Homo sapiens: one gene and its partners. The protein of the gene in region 3 purifies or fractionates together with the protein of the main gene of each other region. This does not show direct contact. Each region holds a gene or a part of one and is shown on either strand. Other genes may lie near its edges.

The links.
Region 1: the proteins of MARCHF2 (region 3) and PI4K2A purify together in Homo sapiens (affinity purification with mass spectrometry, with the first as the bait; one large-scale study listed by BioGRID). This does not show direct contact.
Region 2: the proteins of MARCHF2 (region 3) and HAVCR1 purify together in Homo sapiens (affinity purification with western blotting; one study listed by BioGRID). This does not show direct contact.
Region 4: the proteins of MARCHF2 (region 3) and TM9SF2 purify together in Homo sapiens (affinity purification with mass spectrometry, with the first as the bait; one large-scale study listed by BioGRID). This does not show direct contact.
Region 5: the proteins of MARCHF2 (region 3) and HADH purify together in Homo sapiens (affinity purification with mass spectrometry, with the first as the bait; one large-scale study listed by BioGRID). This does not show direct contact.
Region 6: the proteins of MARCHF2 (region 3) and ALDH9A1 purify together in Homo sapiens (affinity purification with mass spectrometry, with the first as the bait; one large-scale study listed by BioGRID). This does not show direct contact.

The regions. Positions count from the first base shown.
Region 1 is NC_000010.11:97,674,303-97,676,934, reverse strand, and holds the end of PI4K2A (phosphatidylinositol 4-kinase type 2-alpha), read right to left. Parts: 3' UTR 501-2,632; downstream 1-500. UniProt on the Homo sapiens protein: Membrane-bound phosphatidylinositol-4 kinase (PI4-kinase) that catalyzes the phosphorylation of phosphatidylinositol (PI) to phosphatidylinositol 4-phosphate (PI4P), a lipid that plays important roles in endocytosis, Golgi function, protein sorting and membrane trafficking and is required for prolonged survival of neurons.
Region 2 is NC_000005.10:157,056,317-157,060,459, reverse strand, and holds the start of HAVCR1 (hepatitis A virus cellular receptor 1 isoform a precursor), read left to right. Parts: upstream 1-1,343; 5' UTR 1,344-1,539; intron 1,540-2,218; exon of another isoform or gene 2,219-2,504; 5' UTR 2,505-2,516; coding exon 2,517-2,562; intron 2,563-4,143. UniProt on the Homo sapiens protein: Phosphatidylserine receptor that plays an important functional role in regulatory B-cells homeostasis including generation, expansion and suppressor functions.
Region 3 is NC_000019.10:8,426,805-8,430,304, reverse strand, and holds part of MARCHF2 (E3 ubiquitin-protein ligase MARCHF2), read right to left. Parts: intron 1-3,500. UniProt on the Homo sapiens protein: E3 ubiquitin-protein ligase that may mediate ubiquitination of TFRC and CD86, and promote their subsequent endocytosis and sorting to lysosomes via multivesicular bodies.
Region 4 is NC_000013.11:99,507,972-99,511,471, reverse strand, and holds part of TM9SF2 (transmembrane 9 superfamily member 2 precursor), read right to left. Parts: intron 1-3,500. UniProt on the Homo sapiens protein: In the intracellular compartments, may function as a channel or small molecule transporter.
Region 5 is NC_000004.12:108,027,889-108,031,388, reverse strand, and holds part of HADH (hydroxyacyl-coenzyme A dehydrogenase, mitochondrial isoform 2 precursor), read right to left. Parts: intron 3,451-3,500; exon of another isoform or gene 3,320-3,450; intron 1-3,319. UniProt on the Homo sapiens protein: Mitochondrial fatty acid beta-oxidation enzyme that catalyzes the third step of the beta-oxidation cycle for medium and short-chain 3-hydroxy fatty acyl-CoAs (C4 to C10).
Region 6 is NC_000001.11:165,671,063-165,674,562, forward strand, and holds part of ALDH9A1 (4-trimethylaminobutyraldehyde dehydrogenase isoform 1 precursor), read right to left. Parts: intron 1-3,500. UniProt on the Homo sapiens protein: Converts gamma-trimethylaminobutyraldehyde into gamma-butyrobetaine with high efficiency (in vitro). Can catalyze the irreversible oxidation of a broad range of aldehydes to the corresponding acids in an NAD-dependent reaction, but with low efficiency.

The DNA of each region.
Region 1 (2,632 bases), on a different chromosome or scaffold from region 3:
CTTCTCCCTCTCCACCCACCCTATATGCTTGATTATTCAGGGTTTGAAGTGGGGCAGTGATGTACACAGGGCAGGGCTGCCCTCTGGTGGCCAAGAGGAGGAACCACTACTACCTTGAGTCAGGTAGGTCCTCTTTTTTATTTTATTGTTTATTTATTTATTTATTTATTTTTATTTACTGAGAGACAAAGTCTTACTCCAGGCTGGAATGCAGTGGTGCAATCTCGGCTCAGTGCAACCTCCAACTCCCGGGTTCAAGTGATTCTCCTGCCTCAGCCTCCCAAGTAGCTGGGATTACAGGCGTGTGCCACCACACCCAGCTAATTTTTGTATTTTTAGTAGAGACGAGGTTTCGCCATGTTGGCCAGGCTGGTCTCAAACTCCTGACCTCAAGCAATTCACCCACCTCAGCCTCCCAAAGTGCTGGGATTACTGGTGTGAGTCACTGCACCCAGCCTGTAGGTCCACATTTCTTATCCCAAGCCCTTGGCACTAGATTATTTTGGAATTCAGATTTTTTATTTTTGGCTCTTAGGAAGTAGTCAGCAAATACTGTATAATCCCTAGTAGGGAACCATGTCATAAAATATATTGACATTTCTGCAACAAAGAATCACACTAAAAGGAACACATCATAATTACCCATAGCTTCCTATCAGTGTAAGTTCAGGTCAGGTTTGGTTTCAAATGGGTTATGAAAATACTTTTGGTTTTCAGAGCATTGGGACTTTGGAAATGAGGACCTGGATCATCCTTTATTAGGGAGAAATAGCCCCAGGAGCCACGTCTCAGCAATTCCATGGAAACACAGGTTTCTTTGCCCTCAAAATTCCGTTCCTACCTTCTTTGTCTTCCTTCCCCCAAAGAAACTGGACAAAAAAGGTCAGAACTGTATTTGTTATTCATACATTTGCGTTGATTTAAATACATTACGTACAATTTCTACATTGGATTAGAAGAATGACACAGGGGGCAGCAACACTCTCGCAGCCCAGCCTCCATTCCCTGACACTGGAGGCAGGGCCTATGGCTGGCAGAGGGACGGTGTTCCATGAGTGCCACTCAGAAGCCTCCCCCGGCATTCTGGGCCCCTGGCTCTTCCAGAGTCCACATTCAAGGCAACCTGAGCACAGGCTTGAGGGAGAGTGGAGAAAGGCCAGGAAAGGATGCCCACACTCTTGCCTGCCAGGCCCAGGACCAGCTCTCTCCTACACTGGACCCAATTTCCTTCTGATCACAGAGCTGGTCTGGATCAAGACAATGTGGAGATCTGGTGTGGAGGCTGTGGCCAGGTGAGGCAGCCGGGCTCCCTGTTAGACCCCCAGGCTCTCTTGAGCACCAGATGGGCACTTTACCAACAGGTTTGGGTAAAAATGTCTACAGAGAGCTATGCACACCTGGGTCCCCTTCTGGCTCCTACAGTCAAGGGGCAAGTGTTCTCTCGAACATTGTTCCCAAGGCCAGTGTCCGAGTCAGCTGCATGTGATTGTCGGGGCTGGGATTGGGGCAGGCAGGCGAGCTGTACCTTCGTCCACAGGGCATGCACATCCAGCTCTCAGAAATTCTTCCTGTCAGCCAGGTGGAAGCCCGGGACAAGTGGACTCTTGGTGGCTGGACTGGAAGGGGACCGGCGGGGACCAGCCTGGACCAGCTGACCAGAGGGCTGCACATCTCTGCTCTGCAGCCGGGCAAGCAGAGGACATGCAGCCATAGTCCTCACTCCCTTTCTTTGGTTGTTTTTCAAACCTTCAAGATAGTTACTTTCTGAGGTTGACTGACCAATCGCAAGGTGCCAGAATTGTGAAATGTCCAGTAGCACAGGGCATGAACACAGCTGCCCCTCCAGACACAGATGGCACCCTTTTTACTCCCTCCTGAGGCCGTACTTTGCTTTGGTGTAGAAATGGCTCAAACACCTGGCAAGTGGGGGTGGGGAGTGAGGCAGCAGGGGAAAAGACACATGGAAGCAAGAAGATACGCACTGAGCTGCGCAGGACCTGGGACAGTTTGAAGGCCTCTCTCCTTTGGGCCTCACCTTTCTCAGGGAAGCCATAGAGAAATCGGCCTAGGACAAGTCAGAGAGAAAAGGGAAACTGCCACTTATGAGGCAGAATCCACGTCCTGTTACTTCCACCAAGCAGCAGCGGTAGCACAGAAAAAAGTCCAAGAACCTAATAGCCTGTCCTCTTGGAAGCCAAGACTCATCCCAGAGCCCTTGCAGAGACCCACTCCCGAAGACAAACTGAACTCTTACATCAAAAGAGTTGGGGGGAAAAAATTTAAAACGAGAGGAACAAATGAGAAGATTGGGACCAAGGACTCAGGAAGCAAGGTGGGATATGTTCACCCATAGACCACTTAGCTCCCGGCATACACTCCGGCTGCGTGGATCACTTTTACATGCTGGGAGTCAACTTCCTATTAAAATATAAATGCTAAGACTAGCTCTTCCTGCCTCTGCTTGAGAAACAGACAAGCTGTAGGCCAGCAGAGAGCAGAGAGGTTCTCTATGATTGTGTGCGGAAGTGCTGGCGGGGGTAAAGCAAAAACCTCCCTTCCAGGAGAACTGTTTCGAGGCTTGCAGCCAGCCCACAGCACTGATGGGAGATGGAGGAGGCTTGGCAAAAACCCA
Region 2 (4,143 bases), on a different chromosome or scaffold from region 3:
GGATAAAAATGAAAAGGAAAAAAGTGAAAATGGTGGGGCTGGGGAGCTAGATGGAGAACACAGCCACGGAAAAGGCCTTAGGGTTGAGGCAAGTTGGAAAGAAAGCTCTAGTAGCTGGGGCTGAGTCAGCAGGGGAGAGAGTGGTAGAAGAAATCTATGGGGTAGGTCAGGGCCAGACCACCAGGGCTTCAGTAATTTGAGTAAAGATTTAGGAATTATTATTATTATTATTATTATTATTTTTCTGAGAGAGTTATGAGAGGGTTATAAGTGGGGGAATGATGTAGTCTGATTATATATTTACCTTTACCTCACTTATCCTGATTTCATTAGTTGCTTACTTACCCATGTCCCTGCCCGATTGCACAAGTCTGGATTTTTGACGTCCCTAGTATATTGAGTCATGTCCCATCAGCTCAATATGTTAGTAATAACTGGTTGAATTGAATTAGCTTTTTTTTTTCAATCTTTTTTTCCTTAAGAAACAGGGTCTTGCTCTGTCACCCCGGCTGGTGTGCAGTGGCACAATCATAGCCTCCAACTGCTGGGCTCAAGCAACCCTCCTGCCTCAGCCTCCTGAGTAGCTGGGACTACGGTCAGGTACACAAGGCCTGACTATATTTTTTGTTCGTTTTTTTTGCAGAGAGGGAGTCTTGCTATGTTGCCCAGGTTGGTCTCAAACTCCTTACCTCAGGTGATCCACTTGCCTTGGCCTCCCAAAGTGTTGGGATTACAGGCGTGAGCCACTGTGCCTGGCAAGAAATGAATTTTTATTTTTATTTTTGAGATGGAGTTTTGTTCTTGTTGTCCAGGCTAGAGTGCAATGGCTTGATCTCGGCTCACTGCAACCTCCACCTTCCAGGTTCAAGCAATTCTTCTACCTCAGCCTCCTAAGTAGCTGGGATTACAGGCGCCCGCCACCACCCCCAGCTAATTTTTGTATTTTTAGTAGAGTCGGGGTTTCACCGTGTTAGCCAGGCTGGTCTTGAACTCCCGACCTCAGGTGACTGGCCTACTCGGCCTCCCAAAGTGCTGGGGTTACAGGCACGAGCCACCATGCCCGGTCAAGAAATGAATTTTTAAACGCTGCCATACAAAACACTATGCTGAGATCATCCACTTCCCCATGAACCCTGTCATGAGCTGCAAGATACAGACCACCACTGCCTCCTTGGAAGTTACTGAATTCTTAGACCAGAAGAGGAGTTAATGAAGTACTAGGCAAGCTTACTCATGTTTGTATGGTTTAATGATTAACAGCAGAAGTCAACAGCCCGATTTAACGCATGTGGGTGCTTGACACAGAGCCTGCTATATAGTATTCTCCAAAAACCTCAGCTAGTGCTATTACTGCATATGATGTAGGTTTAGTTTTCCAAGTTCTTCCGTGGCCCTTTTTGCTTATTATATCAATCCTTGGTGGGAGATAGAGGAAGCATTTTTAGTGCTATTTTACAACTGAGGAAATAGAGGTTTGAAGAGAACTCAGGAACTCTCAGGGTTACCCAGCATTGTGAGTGACAGAGCCTGGATCTGAACGTAAGTCTGCTCCAGACTTCTGTTTCCTGAAGCATTCTCTTGAAGTCCCTTGGTAAGGAGGTGTAGTCTGAAGCATGTTGTACAGGAGCATGAAAGGTTAGGCACAGTGATTCACATTCACTCTCAATTTCTCTTGCTAATGGCAAACTTGGCAATATGACTGTTAAGGCTAGGGATAAGTCGTTGTGGCCACTGAGTAGGAAAAGCTCCACGTCCACCAGAGGCCCAGTTTACTCTGAAAAGCAAGTGCATCTCTGCCACTGGAAGGCTGGCATTTGCTCTCGTGCTGCCATTGAGCCACGCTGGTTCTCTGCTTCCAGTTTCCTTTTCTTTTCTTTTTTTTTGTTTTGTTTTTTGAGACGGAGTCTTGCTCTGTCGCCCAGGCTGGAGTGCAGTGGCGCGATCTCGGCTCACCGCAAGCTCCGCCTCCCGCGGGTTCACGCCATTCTCCTGCCTCAGCCTCCCGAGTAGCTGGGACTACAGGCGCCAGTGACCACGCCCGGCTAATTTTTTGTATTTTTAGTAGAGACGGGGTTTCACCCTTTTAGCCAGGATGGTCTCGATCTCCTGACTTCGTGATCTGCCCGCCTTGGCCTCCCAAAGTGCTAGGATTACAGGTTTGAGCCACCGCGCCCGGCCCTGTTTCCTTTTTGTTTGTTCCCCTGATACCCTGTATCAGGACCAGGAGTCAGTTTGGCGGTTATGTGTGGGGAAGAAGCTGGGAAGTCAGGGGCTGTTTCTGTGGACAGCTTTCCCTGTCCTTTGGAAGGCACAGAGCTCTCAGCTGCAGGGAACTAACAGAGCTCTGAAGCCGTTATATGTGGTCTTCTCTCATTTCCAGCAGAGCAGGCTCATATGAATCAACCAACTGGGTGAAAAGATAAGTTGCAATCTGAGATTTAAGACTTGATCAGATACCATCTGGTGGAGGGTACCAACCAGCCTGTCTGCTCATTTTCCTTCAGGCTGATCCCATAATGCATCCTCAAGTGGTCATCTTAAGCCTCATCCTACATCTGGCAGGTAAGTGAGTAGGTGCCCTGGGCGGGAAGAAGGGAGTAGAGGGGGGTTAGAAGCCAGAGAATGGGGTAGGGGAAGGGGAGGGGATGGTGGTGGTGGATTAATGTAGATGTTCTTTGGGTACCGTTGTATGGCTATGAGTTAACTAGTGAGCAGGACCAGAATAAAGTTTTAGGCCAAAGAAATTGCTTAACTGCTGTGAATTACAACATTCATGGCTAAATGAACAAGGCAAGATGCAGCACAGTGTGTCACAGGCTGCCCTTTGTGTTTAAACAAAAAGGGTGTGGTTAGATGTATATGCATAGACACATGTATATAGGAAATAGTGACAGTGGGTAATGTGGGATGGGGGCAGAGGGTGGGAGGTGGAGGGAGAGTTAATCCTTATTGTATTTTTTTGTGCCTTCCGATTTTTTTCAGCCACATTCAATTCTCTTTCTTTCTTTCTTTCTTTCTTTCTTTCTTTCTTTCTTTCTTTCTTTCTTTCTTTCTTTCTTTCTTTCTTTCTTTCCTCTCTCTCTCTCTCTCTCTCTCTTCATGAGGTCTCACTCTGGAGTGCAGTAGGGCAATCTTTTTTTTTTTGAGACAGAGTCTCACTCTGTCGCCCAGGCTAGAGTTCAGTGGCGTGATCTCGGCTCACTGCAGCCTCCGCCTCCTGGGTTCAAGCAATTCTCTGCCTCAGTCTCCCAAGTAGCTGGGATTACAGGTACCTGCCACCACTACCAGCTAATTTTTTTGTATTTTTAGTAGAGACAAGGTTTCCCCATCTTGGCCAAGCTGATCTTGAACTCCTGACCTTGTGATCCACCTGCCTCGGCCTCCCAAAGTGCTGGAATTATAGGCGTGAGTCACCGCGCCTGGCCTAGTTGGGCAATCTTGATTCACTGCAACCTCGACCTCCTGGGCTCAAGTGATTCTCCCACCTCAGTCTCCCAAAGTGCTGGGATTATAGGCGTTAGCCACCACATCTGGCCTAAGTATTTTATTTTGAAATAAACACTTTAATTCAAAACATTCTATGAGATAAGGAAAGAGTAAAATAGACATATCCTAATTTTTAAACACAAATTTCTGGAGTGATATATGCCTTTGGGATTATGGGGGAAAAATAATCTCTCATTATATACTTCTATAACCAAATTGTAATAGCATGCATTATATGTGTAATCCAAAAAAATGATACTAGTATTAGGCAAAATTAAACAAGAATTTCTTGGTGGCCGGGCGTGGTGGCTCACACCTGTAATCCCAGCACTTTGGGAGGCCAAGGCGGGCAGATCACGAGGTCAGGAAATCGAGACCATCCTGGCTAACATGGTGAAACCCCGTCTCTACTAAAAATACAAAAAAATTAGCCGGGCGTGGCGGCGTGTGCCTGTAGTCTCAGCTGCTGGGGAGGCTGAGGCGGGAGAATGGCGTGAACCTGGGAGGCGGAGCTTGCAGTGAGCCGAGATCACACCACTGCACTCCAGCCTGGGCGACAGAGCAAGACTCTGTCTCAAAAAAAAAAAAGAAGAAATTCTTTTTAGAAAGACTTTGTCTAAAAAAAAAAATTAAAAGAATGCTAGCATAGAAAAATGC
Region 3 (3,500 bases):
TGCAACCTCAACATCCCAGGTTCAAGCGATTCTCCCACCTCAGCCTCCCGAGTAGCTGGGATTATAGGCAAGCGCCACCATGCCCTGCTAATTTTGTATTTTTAGTAGAGATGGGGTTTCACCATGTTTGTCAGGCTGGTCTCGAACTTGTGACCTTAAGTGATCTGCCCACCTCGGCCTTCCAAAGTTCTGGGATTACAGGTGTGAGCCACCACGCCTGGCCCTTTCCTTCTTTCAAACATTTATTGAGCCCATGAGGAGCCAGGCCCTGCCAGGTGCTGGGCACATTTACCCCCATTTTACAGATGGGGAAACTGAGGCACAGAGGAATTAACTCAAGTGAGCAAACTCACACAGCTACATAGTCCACAAAGCTGGGGTTCCAACCTGGGAAGTCTTGCTCCAGGGCCGAAGCGTCTTTGGCTACTAATCTACTACGCTTGGCCTTCCCCAGATGACAGGCCAAAAGAAATGGGCTAAAAAAAAAAAAAAAAAAAAAAAGCCCTGGTGTGGTGGTTCACGTCTGTAATCCTAGCACTTTGGCAGGCCAAAGTGGGTGGATCACTTGAGGCCAGGAGGTCAAGACCAGCCTGGCTAACATGGAGAAACCCTGCCTCTACTAAAAATACAAAATTAGCTGGGCGTGGTAGCACGCACCTATAATCCCAGCTACTCAGGAGGCTGAGGCAGGAGAATTGCTTGAACCCAGGAGGTGGAGGTTGCAGTAAGCCAAGATCGTGCCACTGCACTCCAGCCTGGGTGACAGAGTAAGACTCTGTCTCAAAATAATAATAATAATAATAATAATAATAATAATAATAATAAGTTCTTTCATTTCTTTGATTTTTTTGTAGAGACAGGGTCTTGCTGTGTTGCCCAGGCTGGTCTTGAACTCCTGGCCTCAAGTGATCTTCCCACCTTGGCTTCCCAAAGTGCTGGGATTACAGGCATGAGCTACCACACCCAGCCAAGAAATGGGCTTAATTCATGAAATTCTGGTGGATGAGACAGAAAGGGCCCCTGCCCTCCCATGCTGGCAGTGGAGGTATGAAATGGGTGAACGGTCACATGGGGCAAGGCCTTGCCAAGGAGGTGACATTGAAGAGAACGGAATGAACAGAAGGAACCACGTGAAGAATGGGGGAGATGGGGCTCTAGGCTGCAGGGGCGGCAGATGCAAAGGCCCTGGGATAGGGGGAGGCGGCCTAGACAAGATGTGTGGGGAGGGGGCTGTGTGGCTGTAGCACGGAGACCAAAGTGGGTGTGGGAGGGTGTGTGAAGGGGCTGGACCTCCCTCCCACTTTTCTCCCTACACTCTGGCTCCTAGGTGGGCCAGGGGCTTTTCTAGGGTTTTTGTTTTTTGTTTTTTGAGACGGAGTTTCGCTCTTGTTGCCCAGGCTGGAGTGCTGTGGTGCAATCTTGGCTCACTGCAACCTCCGCCTTCCGGGTTCAAGCTGGGATTACAGGCCCCCGCCACCATGCCCAGCTAATTTTTGTATTTTTAGTAGAGACGGTGTTTTACCACATTGGCCAGGCTGGTCTCGAACTCCTGAACTCAGGTGATCCACCCACCTCTGCCTCCCAAAGTGCTGGGATTGTGAGCCACCACGTCCAGCCTTGGTTTTTTTTTTTTTTTTTTTTTTTTTTTTTTTTTTGAGATAGAGTCTCAATCTGTTGCCCAGGCTGGAGTGCAGTGGCGCTATCTCAACTCACTGCAAACTCCGCCTCCCAGCTTTAAGTGATTCTCCTGCCTCAGCCTCCCAAGTAGCTGGGATTACAGGCATGCGCCACCACACCTAGCTTTTTCCTCATCGTTTGAGACAGAGTTTTGCTTTGTCACCCAGGCTGGAGTGCAGTGGCTTAGTCTCAGCTCACTGCAACCTCCGCCTCCCGGGTTCAAGCAATTCTCCTGCCTCAGCCTCCCTAGGGTTCAAGCAATTCTCCTGCCTCAGCCTCCCTAGGGTTCAAGCCAGTCTCCTGCCTCAGCCTCCCTAGTGGATGGGATTATAGGCACCCACCACCATACCTGGCTAATTTTTTTTTTTGAGATGGAGTCTCACTCTGTCGCCCAGGCTGGAGTGCAGTGGCCTGATCTCAGCTCACTGCAAGCTCCGCCTCCTGGATTCAGGCCATTCTCCTGCCTCAGCCTCCCGAGTAGCTGGGACTATAGGCACCTGCAACCACGCCCGGCTAATTTTTTGTATTTTTAGTAGAGATGGGGTTTCACCATGTTAGCCAGGAAGGTCTTGATCTCCTGACCTCGTGATCCGCCCGCCTCGGCCTCCCCAAGTGCTGGGATTACAGGCATGAGCCACCGTGCCCAGCCCACACCTGGCTAATTTTGTATAGCTAGTAGAGACAGGGTTTTCCCATGTTGGCCAGGCTGGTCTTTAACTCCTGACCTCAGGTGATCCATGCATCTTGGCCTCCCAAAGTGCTAGGATTACAGGCGTGAGCCACCGTGTCTGGACTTTTTTTTTTTTTTTTTGTATTTTTTGTATTTTTAGTAGAGACGGGGTTTCACCATGTTGGCCAGGCTGGTCTCGAACTCCTGACCTCAAGTGATCTGCCCGCCTCGGCCTCCCGAAGTGCTGGGATTACAGGCATGAGCCACCGCGCCCGGCAGCTTGTTCCTTTTCATCTCTCAGGCCTCAGCTGGGGGGTTCACCTCCTTTTGAGGCCTTGCCTGACACCCCAAGTTGCCCCACCCCCTGTGACATGTTTTTCCCTTACTGCACTATTGCTCCCAGAAACCAGTTGCTTCGTTGATTTTTTTTTTTTTTTTCTGTAACCTCATATCAGAAGCGATGCTTTGAAGTCCAGATTAAAGTTACTGGACTTTAATCTCCATGAGTGCCCAGCCCTACGTGTCTTGTTGGTGGCTGGGTCCCCAGTGCCTAACAGAGTGCTGGGCATGCTGGAGGTGCCCAGGAAATCTCTGCTAATGAAAGACACAGGCTGGGAGCGGTGGCTCATGCCTGTAATCCCAGCACTTTGGGAGGCTGAGGTGGGCAGATCACTTGAGGTCAGGAGTTCGAGACCAGCCTGGCCAACATGGTGAAACCGCATCTCTACTAAAAATACAGAAAATTAGCTGGGCATGGTGGCGCACGCCTGTCATCCCAGCTACTTGGGAGGCTGAAGCAGAAGAATCGCTTGAACCTGGGAGGCAGAAGTTGCAGTGAGCCGAGATCGCACCACTGCACTCCAGCCTGGACAAGAGTTAGACTCTGTCTCAAAAAAAAGAAGAAGGAGAAGGAAGAAGAAGAAAGAAGAAGAAGAAAGACTGAATGAAAACAGGGAGAGGTTAATGGGTCTGGGAGCTCTTAAACCCTAGGCCTGGTTTCTGACACACCATCAGCAGACCCACCTGGTGGACAGGGGCGGTAGGGAGTTCTGCCCTAGGAGGACCACCAGATTGCCCGGGGCAGCTCCTGCCTTTGGCCCCCATGTCTGCCCTCTCCCCACTGCCCACCGCAGTCTCAGACTCTTAAGGGTAC
Region 4 (3,500 bases), on a different chromosome or scaffold from region 3:
AGAAATTTCAAAAGTGTCATAAGAATGAGATCCTCCTAATATGTCAGTGGAACAATTGTTAAAAATTGGAAGAAAGGAAATGAGACTGCCGGGGAGTTTATATAGTTCAATAAAGAGCTTCAAGCTGAACCATGTGAAAGTATGCCACAGATGTCATGACATTCACCCCTATAAAACATAAATACACACAAATAAGACAAGTATGAAAAAATGTAAACAACTGTTGATTCTAGGTGGTCTAGGTGAGTGAAAGGTGATCATTACACTACTCTTTCAACTTTTTGAATTTTGAAAACTGTCACAATTAAAAGCCAGAAAAAGGGCTTTGAAGTTGAGAGTAGACCTTAGTCTCACTGTAAAGCAACAGAAGGCAAACAAAAACAATAAGAAAGATTTAAAAAGTAAAATTTAGGGTGGAAAAGTGTTCCAGGAGCAGGAACGATGATCTCAGGAGAAGCCAATTTATTAAATAGGAAAAAAATAGTAGAATTTGCAATATATTTGAAAACCAAAGAACATTTACAACAACAGATCCTGAAGACCACGAGAAACTCAATCAGCCAATACATGTATTTAATGCCCACAAAGTCCTATACTAGACATTTTGGATGACAAAATAATACAAATTCATGAACACTTGCCTTCAAAGAATTTATAATCCAGATGGAAACACAACGCATGTGTTTGAATATATGTCCTTGTCTAAATCTCATGTCAAATTGTATTCTCCAGTGTTGGAGGTGGAGCTTGCTGGGAGGTGACTGGATCATGAGGGTGAATTTCTAATGAATGGTTTAGCACCATCTCTCTTGGTGCTGTCCTCCTGATAATGAGTTCTTGTGAGATCTGGTTGTTTGTAAAGTGTGGCACCTGCCCCCACTCTCTCTTGCTCCTGTGTAACCATATGACACGCCTGCTCCTGCTTCATCTCCTGCCATGAGTAAAAGCTTCCTGAGGCCTCCCCAGAAGCAGAGTGATGTCGGTGCATGCTTGTACAGCCTGCAGAATCGTGAGCCAATTAAACCTCTTTTCTTTATAAATTACCCAGTCTCAGGTATTTCTTTATAGCAATGCAAGAAGAGCCTAACAAAGAAAATTGGTGCCGAGGATGGGGTGTTGTTATAAAGATACCTGAAAATGTGGAACTGGTTTTGGAACTGGGAAACAGGCAGAGTTTGGAGGGCTCAGAAGAAGATAGGAAGATGAGGCAAAGTTTGGAACTTCTTAAGAGACTGTTTAAATGGTTGTGACCAAAACATTGATAGTGATATGGACAGTAAAGTCAGGCTGCTGAGGTCTGAGATGGAAATGAGAAGGTTACTGGGAACTTGTGCAAAGGTCACACGTGTTACGTCTCAGCAAAGAGCTTGACTTGCATTCTATTCATGCCCTAGGGATCTGTGGAACTCTGCACTAAAGAGTGACAACCTAGTATATATGGTAGAAGAAATTTTTAAGCAGCAAAGTATTCAAGAGGTAACCTGGCTGCTTCTAACAGCCTATCTTAGCTGAAGGGTCAAATAAATGATTTAAAGCTGGAATTTATATTTAAACAGGAAGCAGAGCACAAACATTCAGAAAATTTGCAGCCTAACCATGTGGCAAAGAAAAAAAAAGTTTTTTCTGGAGAGAAATTCAAGCAGGCTGTGGGGCAACCGCATGCTACAGATATCTGCATAACTAAAAGGGAGCCAAGTGCTAATATCCAAGACTACGGGGAAAAGGCTTCAAAGGTATTTCAGAGACCTTTGCAGCAGCCCCTCCCACCACAGGCCCAGAGGCCCAGGAGGACTGAATGGGTTTATAGGTCAGACCCAGGGCCCCACTGCCCTGTGCAGCCTTGGGATCCCAGCATTCAGGCCACTCCAGCTCCAGCCATGGCTCAAAGAGGCTGAGGTACAGCTTGGGCTGCCATTTACAGAATGCAAGCCGTAAGTCTTGGTGGCTTCCATGTGGTGTTAAGCCTGCAGGCACACAGAGTTCAAGAGCGAAGAATGCTTGGCAGCCTCTGCCTAGATTTCAGAGGATGAGAAAACCTGGGTGCCCAGGTAGAAGCCTGCTGCAGGGATGGAGCCCCCACAAAGCACCTTTAGTAGGGCAGTGTGGAGGGGAAATGTGGTGTTGGAGCCCCATTCAGAGTCCCCGCCAGGGTACTGCCTAGTGGAGCTGTGAGAAGGGGGACATTGTCCTCCAGACTCCAGAATAGTAGATTCATTGGCAGCTTACACCCTGTGCCTGGAAAAGCTACAGGCACTGAACAACCTGTGAGAACAGCTGTGGGGGTTGAACCTTGTAAAGCTACAATGGTGGAGCTGCCCAAGGCCTGGGAATATTTACCCAATGCCTATAGCCCCTTTGTGTCTTGGAAGTAAGTAACTTGTTTTTGCTTTTTTATTTTACAGGCTCATAGGTAGAAGGGACTTTCCTTGTCTCAAATGAGACTTGGGCTTGGGACTTTTGAATTAATGCTGCAGTCAGTTAAGATTTTGGGAGACTATTAGGAAGGCATGATTGTATTTTGCAATATAAGAAGGACATGAGATTTGAGTATTTTTCCCCACTCAAATCTTATGTCAAGCTGTAATCCCTAATGCTGGAGGTAGGGCCTGGTGGGAGGTGACTAGATCATGGGGGTAGATGTCTAATGAATGGGTTGGCACCACTCCCTTGGTGCTGCCCTCATGATGGTGAGTGAGTCCTTGTGAGATCTGCTTGTTGTAAAGTGTGGCATCTCGCTCAACAGAAAACTCTTTCACTCCTGCTTTTACCATGTGACATGCCTGCTCCTGCTTCACCTTCTGCCATGAGTAAAAATTTCCTGAGGTTCCCACTAGAAGTCGAGCGATGTCCGTGCCATGCTTGTACAGCCTGCAGAACTGTGGGCCAATTAAACATCTTTTCTTTATAAATTACCCAGTCTCAGGTATTTCTTTACAGCAACACAAGAACAGCCTAATACAGCATATATTAAAAAAAAAATGACAGCACTTATTTATATGTTCTTGGAGTAGCTACTGAATCTCTGGGGTGTGTGTGTGTGTGTGTGTGTGTGTGTGTGTGTGTGTGTTTTGTTTGCCTTTTTTTTCCCACTCTAAACATCTTTATTCACCATCCAAAAGAGTTAAGTCCATCTCCTCCCAGAAATTTGCCTTAAATAGAGACAGATGACTCTAGATTATCACTGATGTGACTAGAAAGAACTTCAAGGTTTACTTGCTTCACATTCCCACTTTCAAACTGTCCCCACCTAGGTTATTTCAAGCATGCAAAATTTTGACAACATGAAACATTTTAAGGAAGTTGCAGAATCCTATGTCACTTAGAGAAAGCAAGACTGATTACAATCCTGTACTATGAAATGTTTTATAGAAGTGGTTTTATTTAGAACTCTACAGTCTTCCTTTTAAATTTCTCTCCTAAATGTACAATTTTATTTCTAGTCCTAATCTGCCAGTTCCATACCTGATCCCAGCTATGGTCACAACTAGTCTATTTTTTTG
Region 5 (3,500 bases), on a different chromosome or scaffold from region 3:
TTGGGATATGCTCCCTGTGCCTAGGTGCTGCCCTCAGACAGCTTCGGAGCTCAGTCTCTCACTTCCTCCAGGCCTCTGCTCAGGTGTCATACTTCTGACAGCCTCTTCTCCTCCCTGCATATATAAAAAAAGCAACTCCCTGCACTAAAGAAAAGGCCAGGACACTAGGACAAGACTCTTGCCACCCCTTACTATCTTCTTCTCCACAATTACTCATCACAACCTAACATGCTTATGTACTGGTTCATTTGTTACTGGCAGTCTCCCTGGGACAGAAATCTGACAGCATAATGGTTGCAACTCAGCTAAAGCCATTTAATGAAATCTATATTCAAGGACAGGACAATTAACCCTAGAAGCAACGCTGTAATTCCATATTCAGAGACTCACTTGAGGACTGTTTTATTTCAAGAAATAATATGAAGATACAGCACATGATAGAAAAATATCTAAATAACTCTACAAAGTCAGCCCAACTCTAAAGATCGTGTTCTCAATAATGCAGAGCAAAAGAGGCAAACTTTCAGAAACAGAGAAACAAAATACAGAGATTGGTGTGCCAAGTGACAGTTAGATGTGGAATCATGTTTTAAACTAATAATTCTTAAACTTCTTTAGAATCAAGTACTTCTGACAATCAGACACCCTTTCCATAAAAAATGCACATATAACCCAAATTCTGCGTCAACTTTAGGAGGTTCATTGGACACCCTCTCCTACCTCCCTCCAGTTAAGAGCCCCTAACTCCAGACAAGACAGCAAAGGAAAGCTTCCTCAGTGAACTCCAGATCAGCACAGCTGAGGGGCTGGGACTTGCCCAACATCTGCTTCTTTGTCTGGCTCAGCAGCACCACCTGCCAACCATTCTTAGCATGAACAACAGAGGCACTTAGCAACAACTCAGAAACAGCATTTTTACTCATCAGCAGCTGCCTATGTGCCCGCCCTACACAGCACCTTGGGACATATGAAGATGAGGAGGAGCCAGAGTGCCCCAGAAAAGAGAGTATAGTAAGGGAAAGAAAACACCTGCCATGCCACAGGGAAGACAGTGACAAGTGACCCAAGGGAGAGCCAAAGCAAGAAGAGTTGTGATGACAGAGATGATGTCCAGCTGGGAGCTCTGCAGACACTCAGGTGGGGCAACGTGGGAATGGCAGGAGTAGTTGGCGGTGATAACAGCAGGGGCAGAGGTTGGCCAGAAGGAAGGCTCTCTGGCAGAGCTTGTAGATGGCAGGAAACCAGAGAACCACTGAGCCTGTCTTGAGCAGGGGCGACAATGTGAGCAAGATGTCACATGGTGACTGGGGGGCAGGCTCATGGTGCTCCCAGGCCTGTTGCCAGCAGAGCCCTCCTGAGAAGAGCTGACCATTTGGCCCCACCATCCTGCCCACACTGGCCATTAGGAGTGGGTGCCTGGCAAGGGCAGCAGTCCACTGTCAGACACAGCCTATCCAGCCTCTGTCCCTCTGACTCACAGGAGTGACAGTGACTGGGGCATGCATCAGGCCTCAGTCACAGTGTGAACGAACAAGAGCAATAGGAAGAGTGAGGACGGAGCTGGGATACTGGGAAAGAAGGCCCAACATGGAAGCCAAAATGAGTGGACAAACAGCAGAGCAAAAGGGCGTGAGCCTCCACGAGATCCCATGGGGACTGGCAAGAAGTGTTAGTGGCAGAGGCCCGGTCATCCAGGAGGCCTGACCTACAACAGCACACACATCCTTCCAGAGAGCCTGCACCACTCAAGGCAGCATTGGCCAAACCATGTGCCTGGAACCCCAGGTGTATCAACAGTGGGGTACAGAAAATTTCTCCTTGCATGAGTTCAGAAACAGTCACAGAGCTCCTGCCGAGGCTGTGCAGGGGGTGTGTGGGCAGATGCAGTAGGCGGTGTCTCAACTTCCTGGACAATATGATACTTTCTCAGTAAGTGCAGTAGCGGGGACCAGTCAGGAAAAGACATGAGTAGCGTGAATTACTCTGCTACCTAAGGAACCTCATGAAGGCAGCCTGACTGGGATGGGGAAAAGGTGGGATGAAGAGGTGGAACAGGCATGACAGGAAGGAATCAAAAGTGATGAACAGATGTGGCAGACGAGAAGGAGCCTCCAGATGCTTGAAGCTTCAAGGTGGAACTGTATGAACGGAGATGGCACGGTGGGCATGCTCTGAGCACTCCTCTGTGTTGGCTGAGAGGAGGGAGCAGGTGGTGGGCGGGGGGACATGGTAAGAGGCCTAGGGTGTGACTGTAGTGTGCAGTAGGGAAGCAGCACCCACCCCAGGCAGGACACCCAGCAACTTCAGAAGCAGATTCTGAGAAGGTGGTGGAAAAAGAAGCAGAGGGACCAGCAATGATAGGCTGTTGAAGCCCATGCCCAGAGCAAGCTAAGAGCATGTCCTGAGGCCAGGTCCTGCTCTTCCAGCTTCAGCCCACAGGCGGCCAGGGATGGTGAGGGCTAAAGGGCATGCACCTATGCAGAAAGGGACCACAGACAAGAAGAGGGCTTTCAACTTACCATCTGATACTTGGTGCATTGGAGAATGCATCAAATGGACAGTGAGGAAAACACCATTAAAAGGTGGATCTCTCACATGCTACATTCTAAAACATTACATTTTGTTAAAAAAAAAAAAAAGACATACAACTGCCTTTCAAGGTAGGGTAAAATGCTCTGTGCTTTCTTTGAGGTGTAATTAGGCATATTTGTTGATAGATAAACCAGAACTGTTGGTTTGATCTTGGAGCAAAAGTGAGGCAATTGCTTCCATAAACCATAGAGAAAAGTTTTAATATTTAAAGCAGATTTTGAGGAAGCAAATGTGCTTTCATCTCTCTGGAAGAGCTGGTGTAAATGTTTTGTTTAAAAAATGACACTCTCAGGAGTGAGCATTTATGAATGAAGTAATTGAAAACAATTACACTTGCTTTTTATCCAGTCCTATTAAGGCTTGTTTGCCTTTGAAGCAGACATGAGAGCTACCTTTCCAGAAACCAGGGAGGGAAAGCAGGCAGGAGAATGCAGATCAATTTAGAGGCCTGGACCCTGTCCCAAATCTGATATTTCTACAGCAGAGAAAAGCATTCTTTGTCAATCAAGTACTGAGGAAAACTGTTTACACCATTCTTAAGGTTACAAAAAGTACATCATGACATCACTCAGTAAGGACAGACTACTAAAAACTGTCCTTACCACATATCGGCCTTGTCACATATTTCTAATCACCTGTCAGTCACAAGTTTTAGAACCTTAAGGAACTTTCAAGATCTCCTAGCCTAGTGATTTTTACATTATGATTATTTTTAAAAGCAGTAAACCTTTTAATCAAAAGCAGAGATCCAGGATATCAATCTGGGCCGGCCATGCAATTGCTCTGGCTGGGACTGTAGTGGGGGTGGTGGGAGTTCCAGAAACCTTTCTCAGAGGCCCACAGGGAAGCCAGGAGGCCCTGGGAAAACAGTGAAAAAGGTACCAGGGCTCAGGGTGCAGCTGAGCTCA
Region 6 (3,500 bases), on a different chromosome or scaffold from region 3:
TCCGTCTCAAAGATAATAAATAAATAAACAAACAAACAAACTGAAATTAAAACTATACTGAAATACCACTTCTCATCTATCTGATAAAAATTTAAAATTGTGACTATATATGCTGTTAAGAAAGGCTATGAAGAAATAGGTACTCATGCATCGTTAGTAAGAATGTTCCTTTTGCTGCCTGACAGCTGCCATCATGGGTCACATGCACGCTTCTGGGAAGGGTCTGTCTCAGTCAGCTTTGCTCTATCGCTGCAGCATCCCCACTGAAGTGGGGTTGCTGAAGTAGGGGCTGAAGTTGACATCTGACGACATGAAGGAGCAGATTTAAAAACTGGCCAAGAAGGGCCTGACTCCTTCACAAATCGGTGGGATCCTGAGAGATTCACATGATGCTGCACAAGTACGATTTGTGACAGGCAATAAAATCTTAAGAATTCTTAAGTCTAAGGGACCGCTCCTAATCTCCCTGAAGATCTCTACCATTTAATTAAGGCAGCAGTTGCTGTTCAAAAGCTTCTTGAGAGGAAGAGAAAGGATGAGGATGCTAAATTCTGTCTGATTCTGATAGAGAGCCGGATTCACTGTTTGGCTCGATATTATAAGACCAAGTGAGTCCTCTCTCCCAACTGGAAATATGAATCATATACAGCCTCTGCCCTGGTTGCATAAATTTGTCTATGTACTTGAGCAATAAAATAATTGCTTAACTAACAAACAAAAAAAAAAGAATGCAACATTTCCTTTTAGAGAGGGATTTGGCAATATCTTATAAAATTACATATGCAGTCAATATCACTAATAATCAGGGAAATGCAAATCAAAACCACAATGAGATACCACTTCATACCCAATAGGATGACTATTATCAAAAACAGAGAAAGCAAGAAAATAAGAAAATAACATGTGTTGGCAAGGATGTAGAGAAATTGGAAACTTTGTGCATTGCTTGTAGAAATGTAAAATGGTGCTGCCATTGTAGGGCACAGTACAGTGGTTCCTCAAAAAATTAAACACTGAATTATCATATGATCCACTTATTCCACTTCTGGATATATACCCAAAAGAACTGAAAGCAGATACTTCTACTATAGATATCTGTACATCAATGTTCATAGCAACATTATTCACAACAGCCAAAAGTGGAAACCACCTAAGTGTTCACAAATAAAAAAATGGATAAACAAAATGTGGTATGTGTGTGCTGTGTGTGTGTGTATGTGTGCTGTGTGTGTATACATACATACAATGGAATATTATTTAGCCTTAAAAAGGAAAGAAATTTTGACACATGCTACAACATGGATGAACCTGAAGATATTATACTAAGTGAAACGAGCCAGACATAAAATAATAAATATTGTATGATTGCATTTATAAAAGGTACGTAGAATAGTCAAATTCATAGAGACGGGAATTAGACTAGTGGTTACCAGAGGCTGAGGGGAGAGAGAAACAGAGTTATTATTTAATGGGGTACACAGTTTTCAATGTGGGGTGATGAAAAAGTTCTAGAGATGAATAATGATGATAGTTGTACACAACGTGAATGTATTAAATGTCACTGAACTCTACACTTAAAAATGGTTCAAAAAGGCCAGGTGTGGTGGCTCACGCCTGTAGTTCCAGCACCTTGGGAGGCTGAAGCAGGAGAATTGCTTGAGCTCAGGAGTTCAAGACCAGCATGGGCAACATGGCGAAATCTCATCTCTACAAAAAATACAAAAATTAGCCAGGCATGGTGCCACATGCCTATAGTCCCAGCTACCCAGGAGGCTGAAGTGGGAATATCACTTGAGCTTGGGAGGTTGAGGCTGCAGTGAGCTGGGATGATGTCACTGTACTCCAGCCTGAGCAACAGAGTAAGATCCTGTCTCCAAAAAATAAAAAAATAAAAAATAAAAAAAATACAAACACACACACACACACACACACACACACACACACACACACACGGTTAAATTGGTAAATTTTACATTAGGCTTTACCATACACACAAAAAAATCATCACAATATATAAGGAACTCACACTATTCAATTGCAAAAAAAAAAAAAAAAAACCTCTGATTACGAATGGGCAAAAGACCTGGATAGACATATTTCCAGAAACATACAAATGGCCAACAAGTTTATGAAAAGATGCTCCACATCACTAATCATCAGGAAAATGCAAATCAAAATCACAATGAGGTATCACTTCATATCTGTTAGCATGGTTATTATCAAAAAGATAAAAGATAACAAGTGTTGGTGAGGATGCGGAGAAAAGGAAATCTTGGTATACTGCTGGTGAGAATATAAATTAGTATAGGCTGCTCTGCCTATGGAGTAGCCATTCTTTATTCCTTTACTTTCTTAATAAACTTACTTTCACTTTATGGACTTGTCCTGAATTCTTTCTTGCACAAGATCCAAGAACCCTCTCTTGGGGTCTGGATCAGGGCCCCTTTGCAGTAACATCTTTCTGGCAAACCATGGAAGGGACAATACTGAGGAGATCCTCCCGACCCAAAAGAAATAGACTGCAGCACTGATTGGCCAACTCTGGATATCACCTTTTGTCGGAACTCAGAGTTATAAGCGACCCTCACCCTGACGCTTTCTGACTGAGCTCCTCTCTATCCTGAATACAAGAGACCCTAATAATTAGACAGGAATATCATTGCCCCTATTCAGCATGAAAAAGTTTACAGAAGATGGATCTTTGTCCCTCTGCAACCCTTAGGATTAAGGGTTCTTTTATAAAAGGGAGAGGGGAAATGTCACAGGTGTTTGAACTAGAGCAACTTCATCTTAAGTAGGGGCTGGGTAAAATAAGGCTGGGACGTACTGGACTGCATTCCCAAGAAGTTAGACATTCTAAGTCACAGGATAAGATAGGAGATCAGCACAAGATACAGGTCATAAAGACCTTGCTGATAAAACAAGCTGTGGTAAAGAAGCCAGCTAAGACCCACCAAAACCAAGATGGTGATGAGTGACCGCTGGTCGTCATTGCTGCTCATTATATGCTAATTATAATGCATCAACATGCTAAAAGACATACCCATCAGCACCATGACAGTTTACAAATGCCATGGCAACGTCATTTTACCCTATATGGTCTAAAATGAGGAGGCATGAATAACCCACCCCTTGTTTAGCATACGATCAAGAAATAACCACAAAAAGGGGCAACCAGCAGCCCCTGGGGCAGCTCTGCCTATGGAGTAGGCATTCTTTATTCCTTTACTTTCTTAATAAACTTCCTTTCACTAAAAAAAAAAAAAAAAAAAAAAAAAAGAATGTAAGTTAGTATAGCCATGAAGGAAAACAGGATAGGGGCTCTTTAAAAAATTAAAAATTGGCAGGGAACAGCGGCTCATGCCTGCAATCCCAGCACTTTGGGAGGCCGAGGTGGGCAGATCACCTGAGGTCAGGAGTTCGAGACCAGCCTGGCCAACATGGAGAAACCCCGTCTCTACTAAAAATACAAAATTAGTCAGGCGTGGTGGCACATGCCT